Regions from separate parts of the Homo sapiens genome. Here region 1 is reported to be linked to region 2. Evidence: microRNA targets listed by miRTarBase, many of them from high-throughput screens and not tested one by one. Region 2 holds a microRNA gene; the other region holds the end of a gene's coding sequence.

Region 1 (5,077 bases), not on the chromosome of region 2:
ACACCAGAGAGTTCACACTGGAGAAGGGGCTTATCAGTGCAGTGAATGTGGGAAATCCTTCATATACAAACAGTCACTTCTTGATCACCATAGAATCCACACGGGAGAAAGGCCTTATGAGTGCAAAGAATGTGGGAAGGCCTTCATTCACAAAAAAAGACTTCTTGAGCACCAGAGAATTCATACTGGAGAAAAGCCTTATGTGTGCATCATATGTGGGAAATCATTTATCCGCTCGTCTGACTACATGCGACACCAGAGAATTCACACTGGAGAAAGGGCTTATGAATGCAGTGACTGTGGGAAAGCCTTCATCTCCAAACAAACACTTCTTAAGCATCACAAAATCCACACTAGAGAAAGGCCTTATGAATGCAGTGAATGTGGAAAAGGCTTCTACCTTGAGGTTAAACTTCTTCAGCACCAAAGAATCCATACTAGAGAACAACTTTGTGAGTGCAATGAATGTGGAAAAGTCTTCAGCCACCAAAAAAGACTTCTTGAGCACCAGAAAGTTCACACTGGCGAAAAGCCCTGTGAGTGCAGTGAATGTGGGAAATGCTTTAGACACCGCACCAGCCTCATTCAACACCAGAAAGTTCACAGTGGAGAGAGGCCTTATAACTGCACTGCATGTGAGAAGGCCTTTATCTATAAAAACAAACTTGTTGAGCATCAGCGAATCCACACCGGAGAAAAGCCGTATGAATGTGGTAAATGTGGGAAAGCCTTCAACAAAAGATATTCCCTTGTCAGGCACCAGAAGGTACATATAACAGAAGAGCCCTAGCAATTGTTGGGATGTGTAATTGTCTTATTCACTGTAGGACACCAGAGAGCTGATTTTTCAAGGGATCCAACAGACAGAAATTCACCCTCATACATCTGCATATCACTAGTTGAAAGATTCACTACAAGGTCCAAGTACTTGGGAAGCTTTCTAGAGATTACTTGTACTTTCTAATCTGCCCAGTGTTACAACAGACACTACCATGTGGCATATCCTCACCGTTTTCATCAGTCACTCACATGTGCTCAAGGAATGCAGACCACTGTGCTTACCAAATTCTGAAGGGAATAATATAATAAAAGCCTGTTGAGGGTCCTCTTCCATCTTGCTGAACTGTTCGAGGCAAAGACAAAACCCAACTTTGACCAAGAAGAGCAATCTGGATTCTTGTAGCCCATGGAGGTTTACCTTCTTCATAGGTTTTTTTTTTTTTTATGTGATTGCCATAGTGGGATATTCCCTCTCCCACATTACCCAAGAGGGAAATGGGCTGTCTTACCATGTGCTGATGTATGTGCTCTGCCAGTGTGAAGGGTGAACAGCTCCAACTTTATGTCCCCCCAGGGACATAGTATGAGATCGGAAAATAGTTCTTAGTCCTGTTTGTCTTAATTTTTATTGGTTTCCAAGGTCTCCTAGGAAGGAGAGCAGAGCTGTGTGGTCCTAATCATGGTGTCGATGCCAGATTTATTTGTAGGTCCAGAGGTCTCCCTGAGAAGAGGCATTTGTGACAAACTCAAGTGCTGGGACCTGCATGAATTGTTTATTTGCAGTGATGCTTCATATTTCCCAGCACTGTTCATGGTATCTTATTTCCCAGGTCCTTCATTGTAGCCATGGGCACTGAAGGACTGAATTGGTAGGTAGGTCACTGGTTGTAAGACCTACTGGGGCCAGGTAAGAACAGTAATTGGCCCAGACAGGTAGGTGTGATAAACAGAGTAGAAAAGATTGTGGCCAAGAAGAGTGAATGTGTCCCATCCAAAGGTGCATCCAGATATGTCTGTGTTACTATGGCTTCATGGTTTGGGGGTATATAGAAATTCTCAGGACCTCAGACCTTTGATTCTCCTTTAGCAACACACATCGTCAGCATAAGGCATCTAAAGATTTTGTGGACTCATAACTTATGTACTGTTTTTGAGATGATTGCTGCACGGGCAGGAAAGCAGGATTTGAGAGAACATACACCTTGCCTTCCAGATATGTGGTTTTTGTGATTCACCCAGATCTGTTGTGCCAGTTAGGAATTATCTTTATTACTTCCCGTTTATTGCCACTGCTGAGAAGGCTGTCCTTCCTAACTTGTGAGGAGATGAATCCTTAATAATAAGTAAATCTTGTGTTATCCTATAGTCTGGTTTTCCAAAAGGAGAGGTAGATGCATATTTTTGTGTGGAACCATTTATCTTAAAACATTGAGGTGCAGTTTTCATACACAAAACCTTCTATCTTTTTAAGAACTGTCTGTATGGTTTATTGCCCAGTTAATGGGTTTTGATAGTCATGTTATCTCAGTAAGTGTCTTGTCTTAGAAATATGTGTGTATAGGCTGGGTGCGGTGGCTCATGCCTGTAATCCCAGCACTTTGGGAGGCCAAGGCAGGTGGATCACCTGAGGTCAGGAGTTTGAGACCAGCCTGACCAACATGGTGAAATCCAGTCTCTACTTAAAATACAAAAATTAGCCAGGCGTGGTGGCGTGCATTTGTAATCCCAGCTACACAGGAGGCTGAGGCAGGAGAATTGCTTGAACCTGGGGGGCGGAGGTTGCAATGAGCCAAGGTCGCGCCATTGCACTCCAGCCTGGGCGACAGAGTGACACTTCTCAAAAAACAAAAACAAAAACAAAAAGAACAGATAAGAAATACGTGTGTATATATTCTATTTTGTGTGTTTTCATTCACCTTATTTCATTCAGTCTTCCAAATGAAATGTTCTTAATTTTGATGAAGTCTAATTTGTCTGTTTGTTCATTTACTGTTATTTTGGTGCTATTAAAAAAATTTTATTCCTTGGCTGGGCACGGTGGCTCACGCCCATAATCCCAGCACTTTGGGAAGCCAAGGTGGGCCGGATCACCTGAGGTCAGGAGTTTGAGACCAGCCTGGCCAACATGGCAAAACCCCATTCTACTAAAAATACAAAAATTAGCTGGGCATGGTGGTGGGCGCCTGTAGTCCTAGCTAGCTACTTGGGAGGCCTAGGTGGGAGGACTGCTTGAACCCAGGAGGCGGAGGCTGCAGTGAGCCAAGATTGCGCCACTACACTCCAGCCTGGGCGACAGAGCAGGACTCCCATCTCGAAAAAAAAAAATTGTGTAATTATAGGAACTTTGGAAAGATTGTTATTCAACTGATATTACATAAGGTATTTATTTTGTAAATTATTTGCAATATTAGAATTTCTGTCAGCCTACAGTATTTCTCTGCTGTTATTCTGACCTTAACACATTGAAAGAGTTCTTAATTTTGCTTCGCCATCCCTTACGCATACTTAATTTTTGTTATTTTGCCAAATTCCAATTATCTTTACAAGATCATTTTATTTTTTAAAAGAGCTAACCAGACAAGAAAATTTGCCCTTGTTATTCCCACTTCCTATATAGCTTGTCTGCCAAAACCTTTATGCCATTATTCTCATCAGTCTCATTCTCAGGGGTTTCTCTGAGCAAATCCATATAAAAGTGGAACTATATGACATTTCCTGCCCCGTTCTCATGCTTCATCTTTAATAGGTAAATTTACCATTTTAAATAGTTTTAAAATTATCTTCACTGTGTGTACTTTGGATTTAATCCTTACTAATGATTAAGATGCTCTAAGAATCAATGTAAAACTAATTTTAAAGCCAGCAGCATAATTTTGTGAGTTATGCCTGAGTATTCAAAAATCCTAACAAGTCAAAAATATTAATTAAAATCAATATGTTTAATCTTTCCAATTAAATACTTCCATTCCATAAACTTCAGAACCAAAGTTAGATACCAACAAGAGACTGAAGATAAATACAGTGTCAATAGTATCAAGGGACTAGCCCATATAATATACTTGAAAATCGTATTAATCACCAATAAAGTACCCCACCATAAACAAAATACACAATAAAAAGTCAAGATACAAATAAAGACAGGCCAACATATGAGTAGACCATTGACAGAAGAGGAAAAACAAAAGGCAATGAAAGGATATGAACTAATGTTCAAATGTATTTCAATATGAGAAATACCAGATATATTCTATATCACTTTAAACTTCTAAAGTAAAAACTGGAAAGCTGGGTAATTCTAAATATTGTCTGGGACACAGTGATACAGAAACACTTTTGTCCATCTTATGGGAGAGGAAGGGCAATGTATAACATAATTCCAGTTACATACTAGATCACCATATGACCTAGCCATTCAGCTGCAAGGTACATTTCTCATGTATGGCCATAAGTTTATTTAGAACATAATACTGATGACCTTATTTTTAAGGTTGAATCAAGCTGGTGGTGATATATTTCATAGCAGGAAAATGGAGGAAATACATGTCCATAATCAGAGGATTTGAATCAAGGATGAAAGCTTCATGATGTAAAATATTACATGGCAGTTAAAAACAATTGGCTAGAGGTAAGCCCATGAAATATAGGATAGAAATATAATATTTTGCTGTAGTTTGAGTGAAAAAGAAAAAAAAAGAATTGTGAGGTCTACAATAAAACATAATTTAAAAATAATTTAATACCACAAAAACTCCAAAGAAAAAAAACCAAAACAACCCAGACACTTCTTACTAGAACATATGTTCCATGCTTCTATCTCGGCTTCTGGTAGCCCCGTGTGTTCCTTGGCTTGAAGATGTTCTTCCTGTGTCTTCACATCGTCTTCCCTCTGTACATCTGCCTCTGTGACCAAATTTCCCATTTTTCTAAGGACACAGTCATAGTCAATTAGGAACTAACCTAATGGATTAACTAACATGATTACCTGAGGTTCTGAGGGTAACGACTCCAACATCTTTTTTGGAGACACAAACACTTAACATTGCCCTATGAATTTCTGCAGTTCTTCAAAGGGCAGAGTGAATAATAACCACAGCAATTTCAAGACACACAGGCTTCCATTGTGAGATGGCTTGTTTAAAGAAACTATTAATTCCCTACACTCTTCTGATCACTCTGTTGTTCACATTCATTTTAGGATTTCTCTTCCAAATCACTTCTGGTGCTTTCCTTCTTGCTTCTTTCATTTCCTTCGGTGTTGTAGTTCTATTATGTTTTTATTCCGTCAGCAATTTCTTAA
Region 2 (5,072 bases):
GAGAATGGCGTGAACCCGGGAGGCGGAGCTTGCAGTGAGCCGAGATTGCATCGCTGCACTCCAGCCTGGGCGACAGAGCGAGACTCTGTCTCAAAAAAAAAAAAAAAAAAAAAAAGAAAAAACTAGATTTGTTGTTGCCAGCGGGTGAGGAGATGGGGAATGATGAATAACTGCTGATATTTCAGGGTTTCTTTCTGGGGTGATGAAATGTTCTAAAAGTGATTGTGGTGATGGTTGCACAACTTTGTGAATATACGAAAACCCCCTGAAGTGTACATTTTATTCTTTTATTATTTTGTAATGGTACTAAGTTCTAAAGATAGTAGAAAAGCTAATATCATCAAGTTCCTTAAATGATAGTAAGAAAACCTTCCGGGCTGGGCGTGGTGGTGGGTGCCTGTAATCCCAGCTACTTGGGAGGGTGAGGCAAGAGAACTGCTTGAACCCGGGAGGTGGAGGTTGCAGAAAGCTGAGATTGTGCCACTGCACTCCAGCCTGTGTGATAGAGTGAGACTCTGTCTCAAAAAAAAAAAAAAAAAGAAAGAAAGAAAGAAAAGAAGGAAAGAAGGAAAGAAGAAAGAAAGAAAAGAAAAGAAAGAAAGACTTCTGATGCCAGAAGCCCCCTCCATCAACAATCTGTCGAGCAATGTTCTTCACTCAGAGGCTCCCATCTGACACTAGGTAGGGAAGGCGTTGGTGCCCTTTGCCCATAACTAGCCCATGACAGAATGCTGCCTTGGACAGAGCCCTCACTCACTCCAAAGAGGCCAGGAATGCTAGGTAGGGAGGAATTTACATGCCTAGGCCAGCTCTGGACCAGCCCCAGTCCTATGGTACAGAGAAGGACAGTGGCAGCTAACGAGCTTGGAAAAGTCCAAAGCCAGCCTTGTTTAACACCAGTAACAATTTTACCTCTACACTGAGGGCTAACATGCATCCAATTCCAGTTCCTCTTTCTCCATCTAAGTAACTCCAGAGGTGGCACTAAGCCTGGCCCACTCACACAATCTAGGACAGAGCAATAGTCAGACATCTCAATGGGCTCAGCTTCCCAGTAATAGGAGTTACTGAGAACAGCACTGGGGGAGCCTCTGTCCATGTCAAAAAGGAGCATCTAAGAGGGGTTACTGCCATAACTCCATCCTTCTTGCTGTGCTTTGAGAAACAGAAGCCAAATCCTACCTCCCTTCAAAGAGCTCTAGTTGCTATGGGAACCAATCCCACCCCCCACTTGAGTCCCGAGACTTAGGAGGGTATGGAGCCAGGAGGAGGCTCCCGGGTGTCTCAAGAGCAGCCACACTTCTCTATCAAGGATGCGTTCACACAGTGAACGCTCATCTTACGTTCGTCATCCTGGACCGTTAGGGAGAAGAGAATGACCTTGGTGGGACTACAGGTCTGAAAGAGCCAGGAACAGATCAATAGGCACTCCCCTCTTATAGTGCAAACTTTGAGTGCAAAGTTGGATTGATGAAGCTCACTGTTGAGGGTCAGGCAGGTCCCCTGACAGTAAGGGAAGCTGGAAGTCTTGGGTGCAACAATACACTCACCGCAGGCAGCTCTGTGAAGGTTCACCTTGCAATCCTGCAGATGACAGAGCTTCTCTGCTGGAAATATATCCTGGCCATGGTCTATCTCCCCATGATTCTGGCATGGGATCCCCAGAGTCAGCTGCTCCACAGTAGGGATAAAGCATTTCTGGACGTAAGGCAGGTGAAACAGAGGTGGCTGTGTTGGGGACAAGGTCATGAACAGCAACACTATGTCTCACTTGCCTTTGATACTAAAACACTGGTTCAGGCTGGGGTCAGACGCATTAGTAGCTGTAATCTTTTCCTCTGCCAAGAGGGTGGGCACCACCTCCATCCAATATATTAGTAAACAGTAGATCTCCAATAATGATCCTCCTTTCTGACTGGTAGGATGAAAAGATAATGGGGAAAGAGCCCAAGAGGAATCTTTCGCAGTTGGTGGTGGTTGGGGGGCAGGGGTTGATGGGTCTTGAACTCTAGAACAAGCTTAGTGGCATGGGGATAGTGGACACCCAAACCCATAGCTATATCAAGGAAACCTCCAAGAAGGGAACTGCCTCAAAACAGACAAGCCAGTAGCTGTGTAGGAACTAGGAGCTTTTGGATGTGAGGGTAAAACCATGTTGCCAGGCAGAAAAGATCTCATTTATGCAGAAAGGCAGCACCCGGCTGGGACAGTCAAACATTTCTACCATGCTAAAACATGCGCCAAAGACCCAGAGCCAAGAGCCCAGGAAAAAGCCAAGAGATGCCACTCCTCCCACTGCCTGCTTTCAGATGAAGTGGACACTTCAAATGGGCGAATTTTATGGTATGTGAAATATATCTCAATAAAACTACAGAAGAAAAATAAATGTCACACGTACAACATAAAGTAAAATCATACATGTTTTCTAGGCCAGTGGCATAGAGGTATACAGGCTGAAAAGAGAGAAACTCTGAAAGTTATTTATTTATTGAAACAGGGTCTTGCTTTGTTGCCCAGGCTGGAGTGCAGTGGCATGATATCAGCTCACTGCAACCTCTGCTTCCCGGCTTCAAGTGATTTTCCTGCTTCAGCCTCCAAAGAAGCTGGGATTACAGGTGCACCCCATACCCAGCTAATTTTTTTTGTATTTTTGGTAGAGACAGTGTTTCACCATGCTGTCCAGGCTGGTCTCGAACTCCTGACCTCAAGTGATCCTCCCGGCTTGGTCTCCCAAAGTGCTGAAATTACAGGCGTGAGCCACCATGCCCGGCCTGAAAGTCTTTTATTAAGCAAAAAAAGCCACTACATGAGTAGTTTCTCAAAAAGACCAAAAGCCGTGTGACCAAGTGACATGGCTTCCTTTCTGTCTGGCTAGGTCTTGTCTCTGACTTAGGTCTCATTTCCCCGAAATAGCACTGGAAGCAAAAAATAGTGTGATGGTTAAAGAGCCGGCTTTAAGTAACTCGCCCAAAGTCACACAAGTTATAGATCTGGATTTGAACCCAGGCAGTCTGGCTCCCTGGGTTCCAATCCAGATCTATAACCTGTGTGACTTTAGGCAAGTTACTTAACCTCTCTGTGCTCTGTTATAAAATGGGATACACGATTGGGTTGTTGCGAAGAATAAATAACATAATCTTTGAAACGTGCTTCAAAAAGCATCTCTTGCTTGTTGGAATTTATTTGAAGTTGACTATGTTTTTTTAAAAAAGCCTCCCATTAGGACATGCTTTTTTTAGAAGGCCCCAATCATTTCATCCTCCCATTTGTCAATGATCATTTCTATGTTGCAAGCCATCTTTAATCAGACACCAGGTAGTAGTTGATCTAATGCTGACAAGCCAAGTCCTACTCCCCTTCCCTGACATTCCTTTTCTGCCATTGTGAGAACTATAGAACATGGCTCAGAGGTTGTTTTCAAAGGCTGAGGTCATTGCTATCATTCCTTCATACTCTCACAGATTAACTCCAAACTGCAGAAGCATCTTGGTTTCCCATCATCCTGCAGACTGGGCAAACAGATAGGAGCTTAGGAAGGCCTAATCAGAGAACAGATGCTCATTTCATGCTAAGAATGTGCTAGCACTGTACGTGAATAGTTTCATTTCATTTTCACACAAACCCCATCTTGCAGACTATTATTATCCTCTTTTTCACATGAGGAAATTAATGACCAGAAAAGTTAATATGTCAAGGTCACACAGCCACTGAAAAATGGAGCCAGAATTCCAACCCAGCTGTCTTCAGACCCTATTAACTGCCATGTTATATTACCTGCCCCTCCCTAGAATGTAAGAGTTTACAGCTAAGGCCCTCTTTAACAGTAGCCCAAAGCAACAGAGGTCAGAAATTCTGTCTTATCTATCTATGTCCTCGGTGCCTGGGACACCGCCTGCCATGTGATAGGAACACAGAATGTCCAACTGCTTAACTGTGCTCGGAACATGTCATGTAGAGTTAAGTGAATCCTCCAGTTGCAGAGTCTATTTTCTACTTGTAAGACTATTTATTTATTTACTTATTATTTATTTATTTATCAAGATGGAGTCTCAGCTCTGTCGCCCAGGCTGGAGTGCAGTGGCACGATCTCGGCTCACTGCCACCTCCACTTCCTGGGTTCAACGGATTCTCCTGCCTCAGCCTCTTGAGTAGCTGGGATTACAGGTGCCCACCACCATGCCTAGCTAATTTTTGTATTTTTAGTGGAGACGGGGTTTCACCATGTTGGCCAGGCTGGTCTTGAACTCCTGACCTCAAGTGATCTGCCCACTTCAGCCTCCCAAAGTGCAGAGATTACAGGCGTGAGCCACCGCGCCAAGCCAACTTTCTACTTGTAAGACAATTTAGAGGGGTTTAGAGTCACAGAGATCTTAGTTAGAATTTGGTAGCTATGTGATCTTGACAAATGTATTTAACTCATCTGAGTCTTGTGTCCCTAACTTGGAAAATGTGGTAAATATATACTCATAGCATTATTATCTGGATGGAATGAAACAATGATAAACATATAATAGGTGCTCAATGAATATTAGCTGTTACTATTGCCTCCCTATCCTTTCTTCCAAATAGGTCTTTGTGATAGGTCAACCATGAGTTAGTTCCCAACTCAAAATAAGTGAAGCAGAAATTGGAACTCAGAGTAGAGTAGTAAAACTAGCATTAAATTGGAAATTGGGAAACTTGTCTCCTGGCTTTTGTTGCCCTTTCTCTACCCAGCAACTATGTAATCTTGGTCAAATCACCTTACTTGTCTGGGCTTCCAATTTCATATCTTAAGTTACAAAATTGATCTCTGAAGCCTCTAGGATTCTCTGAATCCATATGTCTGGGACTAAGAGATTATGTCGAGGAATTATTACCCTTGGTTTGATTGTTTTTTAAACAAATTAACTTGGGGTGGTTGGAAAACACATTGATTATTTACTCATCTTAGAGTTACACGTTGTTCATTTATTTGAAACTGAAACGTATTTCCTCCAAACACCGTAGAAACTTAAAGGCCGCAAAAGACTCACACCCACCACCTAGCGGCGAAAAAAGGAAGTTTCAGGTGATACAAGATGTCCTGCCAT

What was found. Region 2 holds the annotated microRNA hsa-miR-607 (GUUCAAAUCCAGAUCUAUAAC, at 2,982-3,002, opposite strand). A microRNA usually pairs through its seed, bases 2 to 8, with sites in the 3' UTR of a target mRNA and lowers its output. Matches are read on the target gene's strand: a 7mer-m8 pairs with bases 2 to 8, a 7mer-A1 pairs with bases 2 to 7 and ends in A, and an 8mer does both.
Region 1: miRTarBase lists ZNF549 as a target of hsa-miR-607. The part of its 3' UTR that is shown has no 7-base or 8-base seed match.

Annotation. Positions count from the first base shown.
Region 1 is chr19:57,538,138-57,543,214 of GRCh38, forward strand. ZNF549 (zinc finger protein 549) reads left to right here. Exons shown (of 4, transcript NM_001199295.2): 4 at 1-2,739. The coding sequence ends at 790. It overlaps ZNF550 (zinc finger protein 550), which reads right to left. Exons shown (of 4, transcript NM_001397372.1): 4 at 3,701-5,077. Among named protein-coding and RNA genes, the nearest start is that of ZNF549, 13 kb to the left of the region's middle.
Region 2 is chr10:96,825,703-96,830,774 of GRCh38, forward strand. It overlaps MIR607 (microRNA 607), which reads right to left and starts at 3,062; the gene lies at 2,967-3,062. It overlaps LOC102723665 (a long non-coding RNA gene), which reads right to left. Exons shown (of 1, transcript NR_135921.1): 1 at 4,930-5,072. RefSeq lists a cis regulatory region at 4,944-5,072.